Regions from separate parts of the Homo sapiens genome. Here region 1 is linked to region 2. The links come from fine-mapping of genetic effects on gene expression. A gene starts in region 2. The other region holds a variant in brackets. All regions are shown on one strand. Distances are between the middles of the regions. Region 1 overlaps LINC02207 (long intergenic non-protein coding RNA 2207). Region 2 holds the start of LINC02207 (long intergenic non-protein coding RNA 2207).

Evidence for each region.
Region 1: its variant is fine-mapped to the expression of LINC02207 in whole blood (TOPMed, PIP above 0.99).

The regions. Positions count from the first base shown.
Region 1 is chr15:93,860,854-93,866,245 of GRCh38, forward strand. LINC02207 (long intergenic non-protein coding RNA 2207) reads left to right here. Exons shown (of 4, transcript NR_120321.1): 2 at 4,521-4,795. Among named protein-coding and RNA genes, the nearest start is that of LINC02207, 7.0 kb to the left of the region's middle. The variant G/A (reference allele first, on the strand shown) is at 2,094.
Region 2 is chr15:93,853,997-93,859,388 of GRCh38, forward strand. It overlaps LINC02207 (long intergenic non-protein coding RNA 2207), which reads left to right and starts at 2,564. Exons shown (of 4, transcript NR_120321.1): 1 at 2,564-2,600.

The sequences.
Region 1 (5,392 bases), 6.9 kb after region 2:
GATGCCTTCTTTAAGATGCACTTGGCATAACAGAGCCAGCAGGTTGCAAATTATGGAATGTAGATTTTCATTATCGGGTCTGCATAATGTATAGCTTGCATTTAACAACCAGGTCTGAGGGTGGGTAGGAAGCATGTCAATTGTTTGGTGCGGTAACTAAGGCTTAACACTTTCTACCTCTGGTTTTTTTTATTGCTGTTGCCTTAATTTAAGCACATTTGCCGCTATATTTGCATTTTCTTCAGTTGCTCTTTTTTCTAGTGTATTACCATCATGGTCGCTGCCATTGACTATCAGCATCCTGTGGAAAATCATTTTAGAATCCTCCCAATGCTGGAGAGAGCAGAGATGTGAAGCCTGGCCATCCCCAACCCGGGCATGCCCAATGAGATGACTGGGAAGACCATGGCCTCAGTTTTTTCACTGGACAAAATGGGAGGAGGGGCAGTCGATGCTCATTTTCCAGTTCCTGCCTGACCCTCTCTGACCCTTTACTTTTTAAATCATTCATCAAATGACCATTTTAAAGTTTTAAAAAATTTTCAGTTCATCATTACTATCATTTTTCATCATATTTCACTGGGGCCTTATTCTTGCCAGGAAACTCTCTGCCCTAGTTCAAAACCTAGCTTACCACTTATGACAGTAGTCCCCCCTTATCTGTGGTTTCACTTTCTGTGGTTTCAGTTATCTAGTCAGCCACAGTCTGAAAATATCAAAAGAAAAATTTCAGAAAGAAATAATTCATATGTTTTCAATTACGCACTGTTGCTGAGTAGCGTGATGAAATCTCTCTCTGTCCCTCTCTATCCTGCCTGAGACGTGATGCATCCATGTGTCCGGCGTGTCTGCGCCGTAGACAGTACCTGCCTGTTAGTCACTTAGCAGCCATCTCGGTTATCAGACCGGCGGCCATTGTATTGCAGCAGTGCTTGTACTCAATTATTTAACTCAACTATTCTATTTTATTATTAATTGTTGTTAATCTCTTCCTGTGGCTAATTTATAAATTACACTTTATTATAAGGTATCCATATACAGGAAAAAACATAATATACATAGGATTCAGTACTATTTGTGGTTTCTGGCAACCACTGCAGGGGGGTTGCCTGGAATGTATCCTCATGGACTACTGTAGCTGGAAAATTGACTGAACTTCTAATCAGGGGTCATAGTCAAAATAGATAAAATTGTTGAGGCTCAACCAGTTCAAGCAGATGACAGCACAGCCCAGGAGCAGGTACTGGGAGTTCCTGCTGTACCAGGCGCTCAGCTTTGAGTCACTGGATCATGTGAAAGCAGGGAGGGGAACAGGCCAAGTGGGGAGCAGTCAAAGGAGGTGACCCAGAGGAGGACTTGGAGTAGCCAGAGTACAGGAGAGTGCTTGGGGGAATCAGGGTAGCAGATTTACCACAGATGCGGAAGCCACAGACTGTTAGTTCCGAGACTGATTAAGTCTCACCTGCCTCATACAAAATGGAAATTCAAATAGTGTTTATTGATAGGGTTATTATGGTGCTTCACGGAGATTTTGCAAGTAAAGCACATAGCATAAGGCCTGATGCAGCATAAGTGCTCAATAAATATTAGCCAATATTATTATCATTACCCGATTGTGTCTTCCATATCTCTTTTTGTGTTTCTTCATTGCTTTATCCTACCCACATGTCTATTCTGTGCATTTCTGGTTCTATTTCCCCATTTCTCTATTGTTCCTGTTTAAAGTTTTCTCATGTCCTTAATGTTGTTTCTGCCCTTTTATGTTTCTCTATTTTATTTCTCCTTTTCTGTTAGTATTTTGTCATGCATATCTCCCAAATTTATGTGGGAATGAATATGTGAATGGAATGGGAATATGAGGCACAAAGCAATTTTCAAAATAATGGATGCCTGCAAGTGAAAACGAAGGGAGGGGGATATTTCACTGGCACCATAACTGGGATTCACAGACTTTCTGCTGAGTTTTGAGGTTATGGAAAACCCATGTGCCTGTATGACAGAGTTCTGTCCATGGGAAAAAGGAGACTTAGAGGAGGGTGTCTGGGGTGTTGTGTCAGGGCCAGAGACTGAGCTACGGGCAAATAATACAGTAC[G/A]TTCCCAGACTTGCGTCAGAGCCCAAGAGGAAGGAAGAGCGCGGTGAAAGCTGAGGAAGTCATTTATGTAACGGACTCTGTGAGATCAGAGACAAGGAGTAAAATGCCTGAGCTCAAGTGACAACAAGCAACCCCAGACTAGAGACAGGATCCTTCTCCCCACTTCGAGCAGATCCCAGCATGAATCCTGCAGTATGGTGATGGCAAAAGTCAGTGCAGGACCACTGGGACTCCTGGAGCTTCTCACATCTCTGAGAGCACCAGCAGCAGGTATTTTGCTCAAAGCAGAGGTGTTCTCAGGGGGGGATGGTTTGACCAAATGTATCTACGGTGCCTTGTGGGAGTGGGCATAGCATGTGAAGACCAGAATAAAGACCTCGTAAGAGAAGTGGTTGTCAGCTGTCAATGATGCTCCAAATAACTGAAATTCATGGCGAGTTAGAGTCATGTGGGGTGATGCAAAGATTCTGAGGGTACCCGTGGAAGCTGCAGTCTAGCAGAGTGGGTTTTAAGCACTGAAGTTACCTCATTTGTGTCTACAGGCTGGGCTATGGGTTGGCTGTTTGACCCCCTCAAACCTCATGTTGAAGTTTGATTCCAGTGTTGGAAGGGGGTCTAATTCGAGGTGTCTGGGTAGTAGGAGCAGATCCCCATTAATAGATGAATGCCCTTTCTGAGGGGAGGGAGTGACTGAGTTCTCACCATGTTAGTTCCCATGAGAGACAGCTGTGAAAAAGAGCCTGGCACTATTTCTCCCTCTCTTGCTTCCTCTCCCACCATGTGATCTCTGCACAGCCAGCTCTCCTCTGCCGTTTGCCATGAGTGGAAGCAGCCTGAGGCCTCACCTGATGCAGATGCCACTGCCATGCTTCTAGTAGAGCCCACAGAACCATGAGCCAAACAAACCTTTCTTCTTATTGTTTTTCTTCCCAACTTTTGTTTTAGTTGGGAAATAAAGGCCCAGTGGAGTGTTTTCTCCACTGTGTTGTGACAGTGGGCCATGAACTTGCCTCATCTTCCTAATAGTTATCTACTACTTAATGTCCGAAGAAACATATGTATTGGCTTGACTAATGTTACATTTATGTTGTTAAGAAACATGTACTCAGGGGCTACATGTGCAGGTTTGCTACATGGGTAAATTTCATACCATAGGAGTTTGGTGTACAGATTATTTTGTCATCCAGGAAATAAGCATAGCATCTATAGGTATGTTTTTGATCCGCACCCTCCTCCTATCCTCCACCCTCAAGCAGGCTTTGGTGTCTATTGTTCCTTTCTTTGTGTACATGTGTACTCCATGTTTAGCTTTCACTTACAAGTGAGAACATGAGGTATTTGGTTTTTTGTTCCTGCATGAATTATCTTAGGATAATGGCATTCAGCTCCATCCATGTTGCTGCAAAAGACACGATCTCATTGTTTTTTAATAGTGGCATAGTATTCCATGGTGTATATATACCATGTTTTCTTTATTCAGTCCACTGTTGATGGGCATGTAGGTTGACTCCATGTTTTTGCTATTGTGAATAGTGCTGAGATAAACATACATGTCCATGTGTCTTTATGGTAGAACAATTAATATTACTTTGGGTATACACCGAGTAACAGAATTGCTGGGTCAAAAGGCTGTTCTACGTTAAGTTCTTTGAGAAATCTCCAAACTGCTTTCCACAATGGCTGAACTAATTTACATTCCCACTAACAGTGTATAAGTATTTCCTTTTCTCTCCAATAAACCTCTTGTCTTTATAAATTACCCAGCCTCAGATATTCCTTCATGGCATTTCAAAACAGACTAAGACATGGTGGTTGTCTGAAGTTATAGAGGCAGATACAAAAAGGAAAATTATGCTAATTACTACTTCTAACCTCATCCCTCACTCCACCTTTCAGAAATTAGGATTAAGTATGTCTGGGGCAAGGCCCAGGAATCTGAACTTTTAACGAGTACACCATCCTCCCCTTCTGTTCCTATCCTAGATCCTTAGAATATACACAAAGTTTTCATGGACCACACATTATGAAACACTGGATTAGCGCAAAGTGAAATGCTTCCAGAGTAGGAGCCACTATTCTGAGGAATCTTGGAAGAAAAAGTATCAAAATATGTTACTATGTTTTGGGGGGATAGAGACAGAACTTAAAATTGATTGAACTCCAAATATGGCCAATTTTTTGGATGATTTAATCTTTCCCTAAAGCTCTTTGTTTACCCATAAAATGTGAACTTTCCTTGACTTTGACTGGGTATGGAGTAGATTGATGGTATTGACTGATATTTTTGAGTGTGTAGTTTGTGGTTTTATGAGGCATTTTTATATTGTCTTTACACTTTTGGAAAGTATATGCAATTGCTAAAACTTCAACGTTATCTTTTTCTTTTGATGAAATAGAAAACATCGCCCATTTCATCTGTTTCTTCAGTCCCCAGATAGCAGATGACTGGTAGGAAGATGAGGCAAGTTTGCGGTCCATTGTCATGGATAGTGGAGACAACACTGGGCCAGAAGTGGTAAGACCTGAATCCAAGACTCAGCTCTGCCACTTGCTAAATGGGACTTTGAATAAACCATTTCTCTGCACTTAAGTTCCTTACCAACAAAACGAGGGAAGTGGCCTACATGCCTAGATATCAACATTTCATGTCACGTAGAGATCTAGCATCACAAGAATCCAAGTCATCCTCTGTTGCCTTTAAGGTAAGCGCTGTTGAAAAATAATCAGCTATCAGAGTGCTCAATTCCAGTCTTCAATTACGTAAAGAAAACCAATACCGTATACCTCTTGGCCTGCCCATTTCAGGACAGGGTGGAGGAGGCAGAAGGAAGTGGGAGTTGCACTGGGGAGGGAGAGAGACTAGCTCTTCCAGCTGCTCTTATGATGAGGAAATAATTACTTAATGGCTAGGCAATTTGTGAAGCAGCTGCTGGTGGTTTGGGGACCCAGCTGTTCCAAAAAATAAAAAGAATTGGGTTTTCTCTTTCCATATCCTTCCCATAGTAGACAAATTAGATATGTAGTTTCAAAATAAATGATTAATTCCTACTGAGAAATGTTCTTTAGAATCCCTTGTTGAGTAAGAGTCTAAAGGATTGGTTAAGTTTCAATGCTCACATTTAAAAATAAATCTTAAAAGTATGAGAATTTGAGAGAAATCTAAGCTCATCGGAAATGTATACCAAACCCTCTACCTGATGTTGCTATAATTGATAGTCATTTTTTTTAATCCCTGAGGTAAAATAAAATCAAACAATAACATGCCAGAACAACTGTCTCTTTTTTCTGGCTACGGAGTG
Region 2 (5,392 bases):
TTGCACCAGACTCTTAATTTGGATTCCTGCTTAGGACCTTGTGTCACTACAGGCTATTCTTAAGGCAGCAGCCCCAGTGGTCCTCTTGAAATCTAAGCCAGAGTCAGTTCATGTCACTGCCCATTACAAAACTTTCCAGTGTTCCCATTTTAATTACAGCAAAAGATGTGGTCCATACAATGGCCCACAAATCCCTACATAGTCTGGCCCATTGACCTCTCTGTTTTATCTCCCAGGACTCTCTCCAATTGTCGCTTGGCTCCAGACATGGTGGCACCCTCTCCCCGCCTCCAACATGCAAGGAAATTCTTGCCTCAGGCCTTTGAAATAGCTGTTGCTTTAGCCTGGAATGTTTTTCCCTACCTATCTGTATAGTGAACTCTGTTACCTTCTGTAAGTCTTTGTTCAAATGTCACATTGACCACCATATTTGAATCGCCACCTACTTCAGCACTCCTATTCTTCCTTATCCAGCTCCACTTTTTCTTTATTCCCTCACAGCACTTACCACCTTCTCCCATAGTAAAATAATTTACTCGATTATTAAGTATATTGTCCTGTTGTCCTCTGCTGAAATGTAGACTCCATGGTAGCAGGCGTTTGGGTTTCATTTCCTGATGGATTCCAACTATCTTAGAGACTGGCTGAACATGGTATAGATTCAATAAATATTCATCAATGAAAGAATAAGTGGCCAAACTGATAGTGAAAATGGGTTAAATTCTATAAATACGTTAAAGATATAAGGGGCTGCAGTAGATACCTGCTGAGATAGAGAGGGTGATAAAGAGAGGGAGAGGAGGAGAAAGTAACTCCTGTTACATGGCTGAAGGTATTACTCTTCAAAGCATTGAATGCGAGGAAAAATACACTCAAGTTAGAAAAGAAAAAGAGCACTATTTACATGATCAATGTGTTTACTTTGAGAATAGGAGGCATTCGGTAGAAGATTGCTGAAAGTCTTCAAATTATGTTATTGATAAGGCTCTAGGCTTATTAATCACAAATGGACCTCTGCCATAACTTCCACCTTCTGAATTATTTATATATGTGTCCTTGGATGTCAAATAAACCTATGGTAGTAACTTTTTAAAATATTTCCTAAGGCAAAACATTACTAAGCATCTTTTTTTTTTTTTTTTTATCAAGGCCTGAGATTGAAGTTAGAAAATAAAGTTTAAAAATAGATATTTGAAAAGAATTGCATTTTTGTAATGACATTTTAAAGCACAGAAAAGCTGTGAATACTTTGTTTCAATCAGACCAAATTCACTTTTATAACAAATAAACTGAAAATTCATTAGGTAAAATCTTTCCAGGCATCCAGGCCTTGGGATGTTTCTCTCCCTTAGTTTCATTTCACTGGAAGGAATTCTGGCAGGCTCAGAAATCATATGAACTAACCAGGGGAGGGATGGAATCAGCCTTCATTGCCTGGTGGTTTCTCTCTGTGTGTATTGTGACATGCACACACGTGCAAATAGAGAAAACCTCCATTTAATTCCTTAAGCAATTGTAACAGGCAGGCATCATTTTCATTTAAGCATGAAGATTGGGACTCAAAGATTTGCATAACTTGGGGAAGGTCACACCGTATGAAGGAAACATATTCAAGCCCAGCCCAAACTTCAGTTCTCCCACAGCCAGCTGCCTCTCACATGAGGTCAAATTACCTGACATACATAGAGTGAGTTTGGAAACTTAATAAAAACTCTCCTCCTCTCAAATGTTTCCTCTACCTAAGTCCCTGGCGTTTGGCTCTGAACAAGTCCTTTGAGGGTAAGAGGTACTGATATTAGGAATACTTTCTAAGACACCACGCCAGTGCTTCCATTGTTAGCTTACAGTGCACACACATTCACGGAGTTTATCAGACTCCGTCCAGCCTGGGATACTCTGAGCCTCTAAGAGCCCAGGGAACTCAGACGGCAAAGTTGGAGTAGGAGACCAAATCACCCATCCTCATTCGTCATGCTGATTACTTTGCCTGCAGCTAAACCTGTCTTTAATTTTAAAATTAAATATTTTTAAAAAGTGTTTCTTCCTGTGGAATTGTGTTTTAGAAATTCTGATTTTCTTTTCCAATTTCCCTTGGAGATCAAATTTGAAGAAAATATTATTGAATACCTACATGATAATTTGCTACAGGTAATGTACAAAAGAGAATATAATGACATAAATATATTTGTGTTTATATTGTCATAAAACTCACCTTTCAGTTCTATTTAGTAAAAGCTTACCCTGTATATGGACCCATGCATGGATAGGACATGCTATCTGCTTTCTCATGAGGAGCAGAGGCACAGGTAACTTTGAGGCAGGGAGGTTGTGGTTATGCAAAGAAAGATGATAAAGAAGAAATGGGAGAGCTAGAAGACAAACAGCCATACGTGGTATGTGATAAAAAAGCTAAGTGAGCACATGGACAGAGTGCTAAAGCTCTAAGAGAGAGGAAATCTTTTTATTTCATGGTAGTAAAGCATTTACCACCTCATAATAGTTTTGTGACCTTATGAAAAAGGCTCGGGCTCTCTCAGCTCTGGTTTCCCCAGCTGTAAAATTGCAATGATAACAGCTTACCTCTGAGGATAGTTGTGAAGGTGAGGTGGTGAGCTAAAGAGCTAAGGAATCAATTAGTGGCTTTTATTATCATCATTATTGTTATTCAATGAGGAGATGATATTTGAGATAAGCCTTCCTAGAAAGAATATTTGAGGAAGTTTAGGAGAATGGGAAAGAGAACATCTATGTGGGTATGGGATGGTGAGGGGTGGAAAAAAATGGTGAACAGGTGGCATGTGCATTGTATGATTGGGAAAGGAGAGACGGGAAAGGAGCTGTCTGATTATGTCCTGGTTCCTGATGCCGGCTAGTGTGTGGTTAGGAGGGGATAAGAGGACAGGGCTAGTTTGGGGGCAATAGTTATATTATTTCTCATATGGCTTCTCAATTAACTTAGGATATTCTTCCTAAAGTGTTATCTCTGTCAGGAAAAATTGTGGAAAGACTTTGAAATGGATAAAATAATTACTAGGTGTCCTCTTTAGCTGCCTTTCCATTTTACCTAATTCTATAGGGGTCTGCACTTCTTTTGAACCATTTTATAAATCTGTAATGTGTAGAAAGCTTATGTGAATGCAAATGACTTTTTCCTAGGAATGCAAATAAACTTTGTCCAGTAGAATCAAATGTATTATTGCCCAGTAACTATTGACATCTTCTGTGTTTGTTTATTTCAGCATTTCTGATTGCACGGATGTGTGTGTTGTTTGAATCCTCCCTCATACTGATCGTAACATCTTACTGGTTCACTCATTACTTAAAGAAAATCTTTACATACATTCATTTTATATTTGTTAAGAGTCATATTTTATTGGGAGGTCGAGGCGGGAGGATCACGAGGTCAGGAGATAGAGACAATTCTGGCCAACACGGTGAAACCCCGTCTGTACTAAAAATACAAAAATTAGCTGGGCGTGGTGGCATGTGTCTGTAATCTCAGCTACTTGGGAGGCTGAGGCAGGAGAATTGCTTGAACCAGGGAGTCGGAGTTTGCAGTGAGCCGAGATCACGCCACTGCACTCCAACCTGGTCCTGGTGCCACTGCACTCCAGCCTGGCAACAGGGCCAGACTCTGTCTCAGAAAAAAAAAAAAAGAGTCATATTTTAGTTCATTATTTAATACCTCAGGGCATTTTGCTGAGCATAATTCCTTTCTGGAAGGTCACATGCATTCTGGCAGGGTGTGTCAAGAGGGGTGAAGAGGGGAATAGATGAGAGAAATAGTCTATTATACTAGCAGTCCCTATTGCCAAATCTTGCCAAATTGTCTTACCACCATTCCCACCCCCAAGTTGAAAAAAATAAGAGTTTTGAATTAAGATCTAGAGCTTTCTAATTTTTTTTCTTAAAGCGGGGTCTGCAGAAGAACAACACCATATATGCTGGGAACTTGTTGAAAAGGCAGAATCTTAAGATTCATTCCAGACATACTATATTGTAATCTTTACTTTAATGACATCCTCATGTGATTTGCACCCACTAAAGTTTAAAAAGTGCTGATCTAGAACAAAACAGTGAGACCCTGCAGCTCTCAGTTCACCACCTCTCTGCTTCCTCGTGCCTGGCTGAGACAGAGGTTCAGAGTCCATGCAGTGGCAATAAGAAAAGCCACGAGCCATGAGAGCTTAATTTTTTCTTTTATTAAATAAAGGAATCAGCATAATTGTAAGTCTCCAAAGTTTGAAACAGTTCAAGTTGAATGAGCGTAGAGACAAAAGATAATGGGATATATATATATATATATCCATATATATATATATTATTCTAGCTTAATGATGGGGATACATTCTGAGAAGTGCATCAGGTGATTTCATAATGGTGTGAACATCACAGAATGTACTCACACAGATCTAGATGGCATAGCCTACTCCGTACCTAGGCTGTATGGAATAGCCAATTACTCCTAGGCTACAAACCTGTACAGTCTGTTACTGTACTGAATACTGTAGGCAATTGTAACACAATGGTACTTGTGTATCTAAACATAGAAAGGTACGGTAAAAATATGCTATAAAATATAAAAAATGGCATACTTGTGTAGGGCACTTACCATGAATGGAGCTTGCAGGACTGGAAGTTGCGCTGGGTGAGTCAGTGAGTAGTGAGTGAATGTGAAGGCCTAGGAAGTTACCGTGCATTACGGTACACTTTATAAACACTGTTCACTTAGGCCACGCTACCTTTATAACTTTTTTCTTTCTTTAATAATAAGTTAACCTTAGCTTACTGTAACCTTTTTACTTTATAAGCTTTTTAAGTTTTAAAAAGTTTTTGACTTTTCTGTAATAACACTTAAAACACAAACACATTGTACAGCTGTACAAAATTAGTTTCTTTTGTATATCCTTATTCTAAAGCTTTTTTCTATTTTTAAATCTCTTTTTTTACTTTTTAAAGTTTTTGTTAAAAATGAAGATATGGACACGCAATAGCCTAGGCCTACACAGGGTCAGGATCATCAATATCACTCTCTTGTCCCACCTCTTGTCCCATTGGAAAGTCTTCGGGGCAAAAACACACACGGAGCTGTCATCTCCTGTGATAACAGTGCCTTCTTCTGGAATACCTCCTGGAGGACCTGCCTGAGGCTGCTTCAAAATAACTTATTTATAAGTACACTCTAAAATAATGATGAAAAATATAGTATAGTATTTATTTCATAAGCTAGTAACATAGCCATTTATTATTATGTACTGCACATAATTGCATGTGCTATAATTTTTTTACAATTGAAAATACAGTAGGTTTGTTTACACCAGGATGACCACAAACATGTGAGTAATGCATTGAGTTGTGACACGACAATGACTATGATGTCACTATTGATAGG